Linked DNA regions of Homo sapiens. The protein of the gene in region 1 purifies or fractionates together with the protein of each later gene. This does not show direct contact. Each region holds a gene or a part of one and is shown in the gene's direction. Other genes may lie near its edges.

The links.
Region 2: the proteins of KCNJ3 (region 1) and GABBR1 purify together in Homo sapiens (affinity purification with western blotting; one study listed by BioGRID). This does not show direct contact.

The regions. Positions count from the first base shown.
Region 1 is NC_000002.12:154,847,950-154,853,310, forward strand, and holds part of KCNJ3 (G protein-activated inward rectifier potassium channel 1), read left to right. Parts: intron 1-5,361. UniProt on the Homo sapiens protein: Inward rectifier potassium channels are characterized by a greater tendency to allow potassium to flow into the cell rather than out of it.
Region 2 is NC_000006.12:29,618,754-29,623,183, reverse strand, and holds part of GABBR1 (gamma-aminobutyric acid type B receptor subunit 1 isoform a precursor), read left to right. Parts: intron 1-978; coding exon 979-1,080; intron 1,081-1,366; coding exon 1,367-1,432; intron 1,433-1,891; coding exon 1,892-2,083; intron 2,084-4,430.

The DNA.
Region 1 (5,361 bases):
AGCTAGCATTGTCCTATAGAATCTCTTCACTTCAGATCCTTATAGTGATACCAAAAGGCTTTGTTATTCAGGAAAGTAGTTAGAAATCTGGATGCCACACTAGAAATGAACAGTGTACAATTTACTTAATAACAACTCAAATATATATACACATATACATATACCACCTATATATATTTGTACAAATAATATTAATTTTTAATTCTATGTTTTGGTGTAATATGCTTCACTAAGGAAGTCATTAGATAGTAAAGTTATTTGTTAAGAGCTTAGGTTTGGGAATCAGTATGAGTTCTGGACTTAGCTTTGCTGTTTATTCTCTGTTACTTGAAGTTTCAAGCTCTATCATTCTCCTGGAAGTATGAAAATAATAAAATCTTATTTACAGTTTTGCTGTGATGAGATAATGAGATAAAATATATAAAACCTATATAGCACACTATTTGGCACATTATTACTCAATATGTAATTAATATCACCACTATTATTTTTATGTTTATAATTAGCAATTTTAACCAACAGTCACATTAGCAAATATTTCTTTTTCCCGTCCAGTAGGAAGATGATTCATTCATTATTTTAATTCTTAAAAGTTCACTCATCAATTGGTTTCCCATACTTTTTCCACATGTAATAGCAGCTACAATAAATATCACTAATATTTATTAAGACATTGCTAAACACATTGCATACAATATCTCATAAAATTATTCCAATTATCCTAGAATATAAGTACTATTCTTAATATAATTTTCAAGATTAGAAAAACGGAGGTTCAGAGAGGCAAAGCACCATTCCAAAGGTAAACAGCATAGGTGGTAGAGCTGGGATGCGGCCCCAGGGTCGTCTGACACCACAGTACTTACTGCAGGGAGTTGTGCAGAGTGCCTCTGGTGTTCATCCCTGAAGAAAGGTTCATTTCTTTCATCACTTGCTTTGATTTTTATTGTGGCAAATCTGGTCCCCTTGACCACAGAATCACAGACTTGATGCTTTTGTAACCAAAAGTTGACACTTTAATTTGAATATTCACTAATTATACTACTAGTGATAAACTCTCTTTTGTTTCTTCTTTTGCCTACACAGTACTACTTGATAGAGAGATGAGATTAACAGCATGAATCCTCAAGCCTGATTTCTTATGTTCAATTTCCAGCTGCATCACCTCTATGTGATGCTACTATCTTGTATCCCTCTGTGACTCAGTTTCCACCTCTAGAAAATAGGAAGGGGGATAACAGTCTCTTCCTCGAAGAGTTGTGAGGATTAAAGACAACTTGTAAATAGTGCTTAGAGAGATACTTGACATATAATCCTATAGAGATATTATTACTACATGACTTAACTGAAAGGGATTTGCTCTTCTGTTTTTTGTTTTGTTTTGTTTTGTTTTGTGTTTTTGCTTTTGTTTGATGTACGTGTGATAAAACACAGCCACAGCTACCATTACAGGAGAACGCTCTTTTGCTCTCTCTCCTGTCTCTTTTTTCTCTGTCTGGGTCTGATTCTCTCTATCCCTCTATCTTTCCTCCTTCCCTTTCTTCTCTCCCCCAATCTCCCGCAAACACATCTATATTGGGTAAGGTTTAGATAAAGCGTCCATGTTCAGAAGTTATTGATTGTGTGATATTTTCTGTGTCACAGCATTCAGACATTTCCCTTGGCCTGTGGTTATATTGTTTTTAACCATATTGTGCCCCCTTTGTGTGAGTGACACATCCACCATCCCCGGCTAGCAGAAACAATGGAAAATAACTGAGTTAGAGATATCCTGAAAGTTTAATTAAGGACTTGTCAAATAACAACTCACTTTGTCATTTTCACTTTAAAACCTTCCACAGATCTGTTCTTTGAATGAATGTTTAATTCAGTTAAAAGGATGGACTTAGTTCAGTTTAGAGGCAGAATCAGGAAAGGAAAATGTCAAAAATAAAAAGGTTAGACTATGTTGCTTCTACCATTTTAAATGGACATACTGATACTGGAATAAATTACACTAAACAATAATATATACCCTTTTAAATCTGTGAATATTGCAATGCAATGTACAGAATAAATCTTTTTTTTTTTTTTTTTTTTTTTTTTTTTTTTTTTTACAAAATGTTTTTTATCTAAGGATTCAAAAGTCCCAGCTATTTCCAGTAGCAGCATCTGTTGCTTTGCCAGTTTCCACAGAGATGAGCTCGTGTTGATTTTCACCACATTTGTTCAAGTCTGGAATCTGGTTAAAACATGCAAACAGTTGTGTTGCTGGCTAAGAGGTGCAATCTCATAGTACCCTTTGAATAATAGTAGTCACTTGCATTTATTTTAATTCAAATGGCATTTGCAATTATGAATCTAAGCATGGATTATTTTAAAATAACTAATTAGAATAAGAAATATAAAGCATTCTAATTCTAGAAGGAAGAATGATATGGTACATGCATGTTCTTAGAAACCATAATGATATCTACTTTAAATCTTCTCAGTTGAAATTTGCATTTTATTTTTTCATCACCATTTTGGGATAACTTTTGCAAAAAGAAGTACTCTCTCAATTATATCTTATCTTAGTTCATTGTCTAAGATGCAGATTGGCAAACATAGACATTTTTCTGTTATCCAATTTATAAATCTTCCATATCTTTATCCATATATTGATTGCAAATTCATAATATCCTGAGATGAAACCAGATTTTAAAACTATGATTGTGAATTGGAAATGTCTGCTATTTGGGTACCTACATCTAATGAAAGTAGGACAGGAACAGTAGAAAAACAAACAAAGGTTAAGGTGCTGGCAAATGTTCTTGGCATGATTAACATAGTGTTAACATTGATTTTAGCCATTCTGCTTGCTGCAAGCCTTTTAATACACCCCATATATCCATACTTAGTCTCTTCTGCTATTAGGGGTAGTTAAGTGGAAAATGTTGAGAAACCCTAAAAGTTGGAAATATCAGTAATGTAACTTTTTTCTATACTTTTAAATATTTTGAATGTTTAATTGTCTGACAATTTTAAAAACAAATTACTGGCTGGGCATAATGACTTATACTTGTAATTCCAGCACTTTGGGAGGCTGAGGTGGGAGGATTACTTGAGGCTAGGAATTTGAGAGCAGCCTTTTGTGAGACCCCATCTCTACAAAAAATTGAAAATTAGCCAGACTTGGTGGCTCGTACCTGTCATACCAGCTACTTGGGAGTAACAGGCAAGAAGATTGCTTGAGCCCAGGGGTTTGAGGCTGCAGTGAGCTATGATCCCACCACTGCACTCCAGCCTGAGTGGCAGAACAAGAGCCCATCTGAAAAAAAAAAAATTGTTATCTCATAGCCAGTGACTTTTAAACTTAATTCTTAATATTCTATATTACTAATATGGGATAAATTACAAAGATGTAAAAATTCATCACACATATTAAGGCACCTTACTAATTTTCAGGAAGAACAGGAAATGTAAGTGACTATTATAGAACAATAAATCACTAGTCATTAACAGGCATTACCTAAACACCAAGCAAGGTTCTATGTCTTTTACTTTCAAACTTTCAGTAGGTTTCTAAGAGAAGATATGTTGTTATCTCTAGTTGATAAAGGAGAAAACAGGGTGAGAGAGCTTTAGGTAATTTTCACAAGCTATTTAATAGTGGCATTGACAGCCAGATTCATAAACTTTTAAATTATATTTCAGATGTTGCCTCACTTATGTGAATTTGCTGTGAAAATAAGTAAAGTTAATTTTATCTAGTAAAATAGATTCTCCACCTTCCTTTTCAGTTGAAATCATGCATTGGCATTTCAGTAACAATGATTACAAGTATTTTAATGCCAACAAACATTTGAATACACGTTTCCACTGTAGATGTCATAGCACTTTAAGTACCTTAATAATTGATGGCCAGTTTTCCCAATATTAAAATTTTATAAGATTTTATTTTCCCAATTGTAATGGTAAAAGCAGGGGCAAAATTTTGATTTTTTATGTAATGTTATTTTCGCAATGTGAAAATAAAAAAAAGCCACCAAAATGAAATGGGCTAAGATGGTGATATCATCAAATTTTACTTCAAAATTTACTTTGTGATTGTTAGAAATAATTGAACAGACTTCATAACCTGAATTTACTTTAACTCATTGTAAATATTTATTTATATTAATCAAAGGACAAACTTACAAACTTTCCTTACTTTTTAAGACACTGAATTATATTGAGTACGTAACATTACTTAGGATAATTCTGCCTGACATCAATTTTCAATGATTGAAGTTTTTAAAATTAAAAAAGTGGCTGGGTTCAAGATGAGTCTGAGTAACATGACAAAACCCTGTCTCTACAAAGAAATACAGCTCACTTGGGAGGCTGAGGTGGGAGGATCACCTGATCCCAGGGAGGCTGAGGCTGCAATGAACTGAGATGGTGCCACTGCACCGCAGCCTGGGCGACAGAGTGAGATCTCATCTCGAAAAACATAAAAATAAAAAAGATAGATTGTAAGGCAGTATTATCACTTAGTAAAAATATATTTATAGTATTTTTTCTTAAATTTAAATTAATGTCTTGGATGGGAAAGACACTTAGAATGACAGTGGCTGCTTTTAGGGAGAAAATATAAGGCACTTCCACATTATTTGTTTTACTATTTCTTATCTTAACAATGACATCAGATATTTATTCTTTATTCTAGATACTTTTCTTTATCTTTAAATTTCTCAAAATAAAACCAAGTAAATATATCAGGAAATACATTTTTTATTTTTCCTGATTAAGTGATAATCTATGATTTTTCTTATGAAATACTTAGAGGCTAGAAAGTTATTAGAAAATACAGAATGCTGCTATGTGTGTGTTTACACTTAATGTTTTAAAACTAATTTATTATCTTATATATAAATGTTTCTGGGGCTATTCCTCACGTAAAATTGATTATAAACACGGATATCTGATCATAGTCAGATTTGCACCATTACAGAGTTTAAGTGATAACTGAGTTCATAACTAAAATATTAGAGACATTACGGCAAAGTAAAATAACAACAATTTAAAAAAAAACCCACGCATAGAAATAGGATGATACTTTTTTTCTCTACAGCTTATTAGATCTGTGCTCAAGAAAGGTCAAGAGACTTAACCTCTCTGAGCACTAAATTCCTTATCTTTAAAATAGATGCAAGAATATCTTCTCAACAGGACCATATTGAGGATTAGAATGGAAAAAAAAAAAAAGAGGGAAGAAGAGAGAGAGCACCTAACACAGTGCTAGCCACATGATAGATACTAATTTTCTACATGAGTTTATTTTAAAACTGTCTTGAAAAAACATAGTATATAGTGATAACAACTAATTCTTTGGTAATATATAACAGAATATTCATAAGG
Region 2 (4,430 bases), on another chromosome or scaffold:
CATGTGGATTAAGTGCAGTTCTTTCTGTAGCCAGGGGAAAGAATGAGTTGAGTTTTTGGGATCCTCTCTGTCTTTATGATTTTATGATTTTTTTCCCCTGTTTGATGCCCTGTTCCCCAGACATATAGACCCAGAATGACTCAGTTCTGTTAAAGTAGGTTCAATCCAAAGTGGGGGCAAGAGATGGGAGCGAAGATGAGATAGGAATCCAGGAAGGCAGCAGATTCCAGAGGCTTTCAAGGGGGGTGGTGGGTGGGTGTGAATGGGAACAGAGGGGATGGAGCCAGTGGATTACAGAGGAGAGAGGGAGAGGAAAGAGAGAGAGAGAGAGGAATGAGGGAGAGGAGAGAGAGGGGCAGAAAGGCAGCTGCATGGATCTGGTAGTTGGTACTAAGAGAGAGAAGCCGACAGACAAGGAGAGGTTGAGGGGGAAGAGGGAGATTTGGGGAGGTAGAGAGGAAATACAGGCTCTACATCTGAAGAAGGCAGTCTGCTCCCTCCCTTTTATTCTATTCTTTGGGTCTTCTATCCACTGTGTTCAGTGGCCCTTTAATCCTCCCCCACTTTCACTCTGATTCAGACCATTCTTCTCTGATCCTTTGTCTGTCTGCCCATTTGCCTCTTGAGGTTGACATCATGCTGTCTGTCCCAGTCCTTGCCTTGTCTTTTCCTGGTTCCTTTATGTTTCTTTACCCCATCTTTGCCTTCAGTGGTAGGAGTGGGTGAATGGAGTGGCTTCCCCCACACAGAGCCTCAGCAGGGGCTCACCATTCACCTTCCCACTTGGAATCCACATCCTAAGACCAGATGCCTTCCCGAACTCCTCACTTCAGGGACAGAAGCTGTTGAAGGAAGGTTCAGAATGGCTGCTTCTTTGCTCTATCTGAGTATTGCTCTGAAATCCCCAGTTAACCTCTCTGGTCTTTATTCCCTCATGCACCCCGTGTTTTTCCAACTTGTTTTTTATTCCCACCCAAGACTCTGGACGACCTGGAGGAACGAGTGAAGGAGGCTGGAATTGAGATTACTTTCCGCCAGAGTTTCTTCTCAGATCCAGCTGTGCCCGTCAAAAACCTGAAGGTCAGATGGCTGGGAGTGGTGGGCTCTGTTTACGGAGGGACCAAGCTGGGGGACAGTGACTGGTTGGAGAGGAAAGCCAGGCGGGGGCAGGTTTTGATTCTCTGAGGCAATAGCATCTCCTGGGGAAGTTTAGCTCCATCTTCCAGTTGACGTTTATTCACTATACGTTGAGCGTTACCCTGCACTAAGCACTTTGGGATGGGAAATCAAAGCTGTGAAGACATCTGGCTTAGCCCCTCAGGCATTCCCGGGCATCCCTCAGGAGCTGTTTCTTTCTCTGTTGTAGCGCCAGGATGCCCGAATCATCGTGGGACTTTTCTATGAGACTGAAGCCCGGAAAGTTTTTTGTGAGGTGGAGTTGGATCTGAAGAGGGAGGGGCACTGGGTGGGAGTTTCCCTTGGTTTTCTTGTGGGGCCTCCTCTTGGCATCTGTGCCTGAGTTGATAGCATATGATCTGAGGTGACGATTCATAGGATGTCTCTGTCTGTTGGCTCTGACTGCATCCCTTGTCTGCACACACATGATACTTTCTTCAGATCTCATTTTTCTACTGCTTTGTGTTTCCTGAGAAGCCCATGAATTCCATCTGTCCTGACTGGCTGGAAAAGGCCACTCAGAAATACAGGGGCTGGGGAGAAACTTAGAAGGAAGAATTGTCAGCCTTTCCTACTATCCCCAAGACTTGTAGATTTCTCTTTTTAGTTCTACTGCTCTTCCCTGATTCCCAAGAGGCTAAATAGTATCAAGTGAGATAAGACAAAAACAAACAAATGAGCAAACAAAAACTCAGCCATTCTCCTCTGTATTCAGGTGTACAAGGAGCGTCTCTTTGGGAAGAAGTACGTCTGGTTCCTCATTGGGTGGTATGCTGACAATTGGTTCAAGATCTACGACCCTTCTATCAACTGCACAGTGGATGAGATGACTGAGGCGGTGGAGGGCCACATCACAACTGAGATTGTCATGCTGAATCCTGCCAATACCCGCAGCATTTCCAACATGGTGAGAGTGTGGGGACTTGCAGTCTGGCACCTGGGAGGGTGGAGAGGACTGAGGGGGCCTTGCAGGGGAAAGGGTGGCAGGGAGAGGGTGCGGAATTTGGATATAAAGGAGAAGAGGGGGCTGTGCCCACCCTGAACTTGTCTGCATTATGTTTCCTGTGGATCCTACCTTTGCTCTGACTTCCTTGGGTAGAGAGAGAAAAAAAAAAAAACGATGGAGTTGTATGTTCAGTAGGTTCCTGATGAGTGGAAGGGCTGTTACCATGGAGACGAGGAGCAGTTGGTGAGAAGTCAGGAGGAACCGGCATTAATGATAATATGGATGCTTGTATACTCAAGCACACCTTTACAGGAGCACTGTGTCTGGGCAGAATTGCATTTCATTTTCTTGGTGATTTATGTTAGTGTTTTAGAGTTGCTTAATATTCACTCATGATTGATATGCAATTAGCTTGGATCCTGTTGCTTTTTTTAATGATTCTTTTTTTAGAATTTTATGTGGAGAAGGGGCTTTTGAAATCATTTAGCCCCAGACAGCTGGTTAATGACAGACTTGGAGCGAGGAGGCGCATTCTCTGATTTGAGAGGGCTGGGGCAGCCCTGCAGCTGAGGGGCAGAAGTGAGTGTGGGTGTGGGCACAGGGGAAGAGGCTTCTTTGTTGCTCAGCACTACATTGTAAAGAGTACAGGAATTTTGGGTAAGCTCGATACGGCCACCTATGTGTCTGCTTATTACACCAAGTGTGTACCTGCTTTGGAGAGCATGTTAGGGGTGAGTTAATGGTTGTAAAGCCCCAAAATAGCTTGATTTAAAAAGTTTTACTAACAGTGGCATTTGTGTGGTACTTAGATTCATGATTTCAGGGATTCTAACAGCAAAACTCTGATGTGGACTTATCTACATTTTGTAGACCAGGAAAATGAGACTCAGAGTGGTTTAATGACTTGTCTCAGGTCATGCAGCTACTCAGCAGTCCAGCTGGAATTGAATCCTAGTTAAATCTGGCTCCAAACTGCTCTGCTCATCACTTCCCATGGAAAACCATGAAGCCTGACTAAAAAGTTTGTACTTTTATCTGCTAACACTGTTTAGCTACTGGCAATTGCTGAGCAAAGGAGAAATAAGATTTAGGAAGTTGACTCTGGTGGTGTGTTGTGATGAAAGATCTGCTGCCACATGGACTCTGATGATACACACTGTTTTGGGACATTCTAAATGGACTCTATGTTTTAAGGTATGTTAGTTGAAAAATACAATGAAAAAATTTTGGAAGATCACTTTCCTGTAGAGTACCCAAGAGGTGAGTCATCCATAAAACCTGGGAAAGTATTGGAACTGGCTACCAAAGCCAGAAAGACTTGTTGGTGCCCTGAGCCCAGGACTTGCCAATCGTTGCTTCTGTCTTATAGCAGGGAGCTAGAGGAGGCTGACAGAAAACAGGGATTTGGCTGGATCTAGTGGCTCACACCTGTAGTCCCCAGCACCTTGGGAGGCCAAGGCAGAGGATCACTGGAGCCCAGGAGTTCAAGACCAGCCTGGGCAATATAGTGAGACCCCCAGCTCTAAACAAAAAGAGAGAGAGAGAGAACAGAGAGATGGTTAGGGACATAGAGGGACACCTGAGCATTGGGGTGGGAAGACTTGGAAGGTCCCTTTCTGACTTTGTGTCTAGAGAAAGATGGTTCCTGCTTTTGAGGCCATAGGGCTTCCAGTGGGACCAGCCTAAAATGCCAGTGGGGAAGCCAATGTTTTCTGAAGAGGATAGAGCAGTCTTAACAATAGGTTAGGGGCAAAAGAGATTATAGATTAATCAAACAGCACAAATAGAAGTGGATCAAAGCAAGGGTTGGACCTAGGGGGCCGGAGCCATGGAGACTTAGAAAAGAAGCAGAGTTGCTTTTATTCCCTAAGGATGGCCTTATGTTTAGATCAATAGTTCTCAAACTTTAACATCCGTCAGAACCACCTGGAAAGGTAGTTAGTTCACAGGTTATCAGGCCCTTCCCCTGGAAATTCTGATTCAGTAGATCTGGGCTAGGGCCTGAGAACTGACATTTCTAGCAAGTCCCTGGGGATGCAGATGTACTGGTCTGGGGATCACACCTCGAGAACTATTAGTTAGGGTAGTGGTTTTCAACTACTACCCTAGACTCAGACGCTATACTATCTGGAGGCATTTTTGGTTGTTACAGTTGGGGGTAGGGGATGGGGAGGGATACATGCTCCTGATATCTAATGTGTAGAAGCCAAAGATGATTCTAAATATCCTACAAAGCACAGCCCCTGGCAACAAAGAATTATCTTGCTCAAAATGTTAATAGTGCAGAGAATGAGAAACCCTAGTTTAG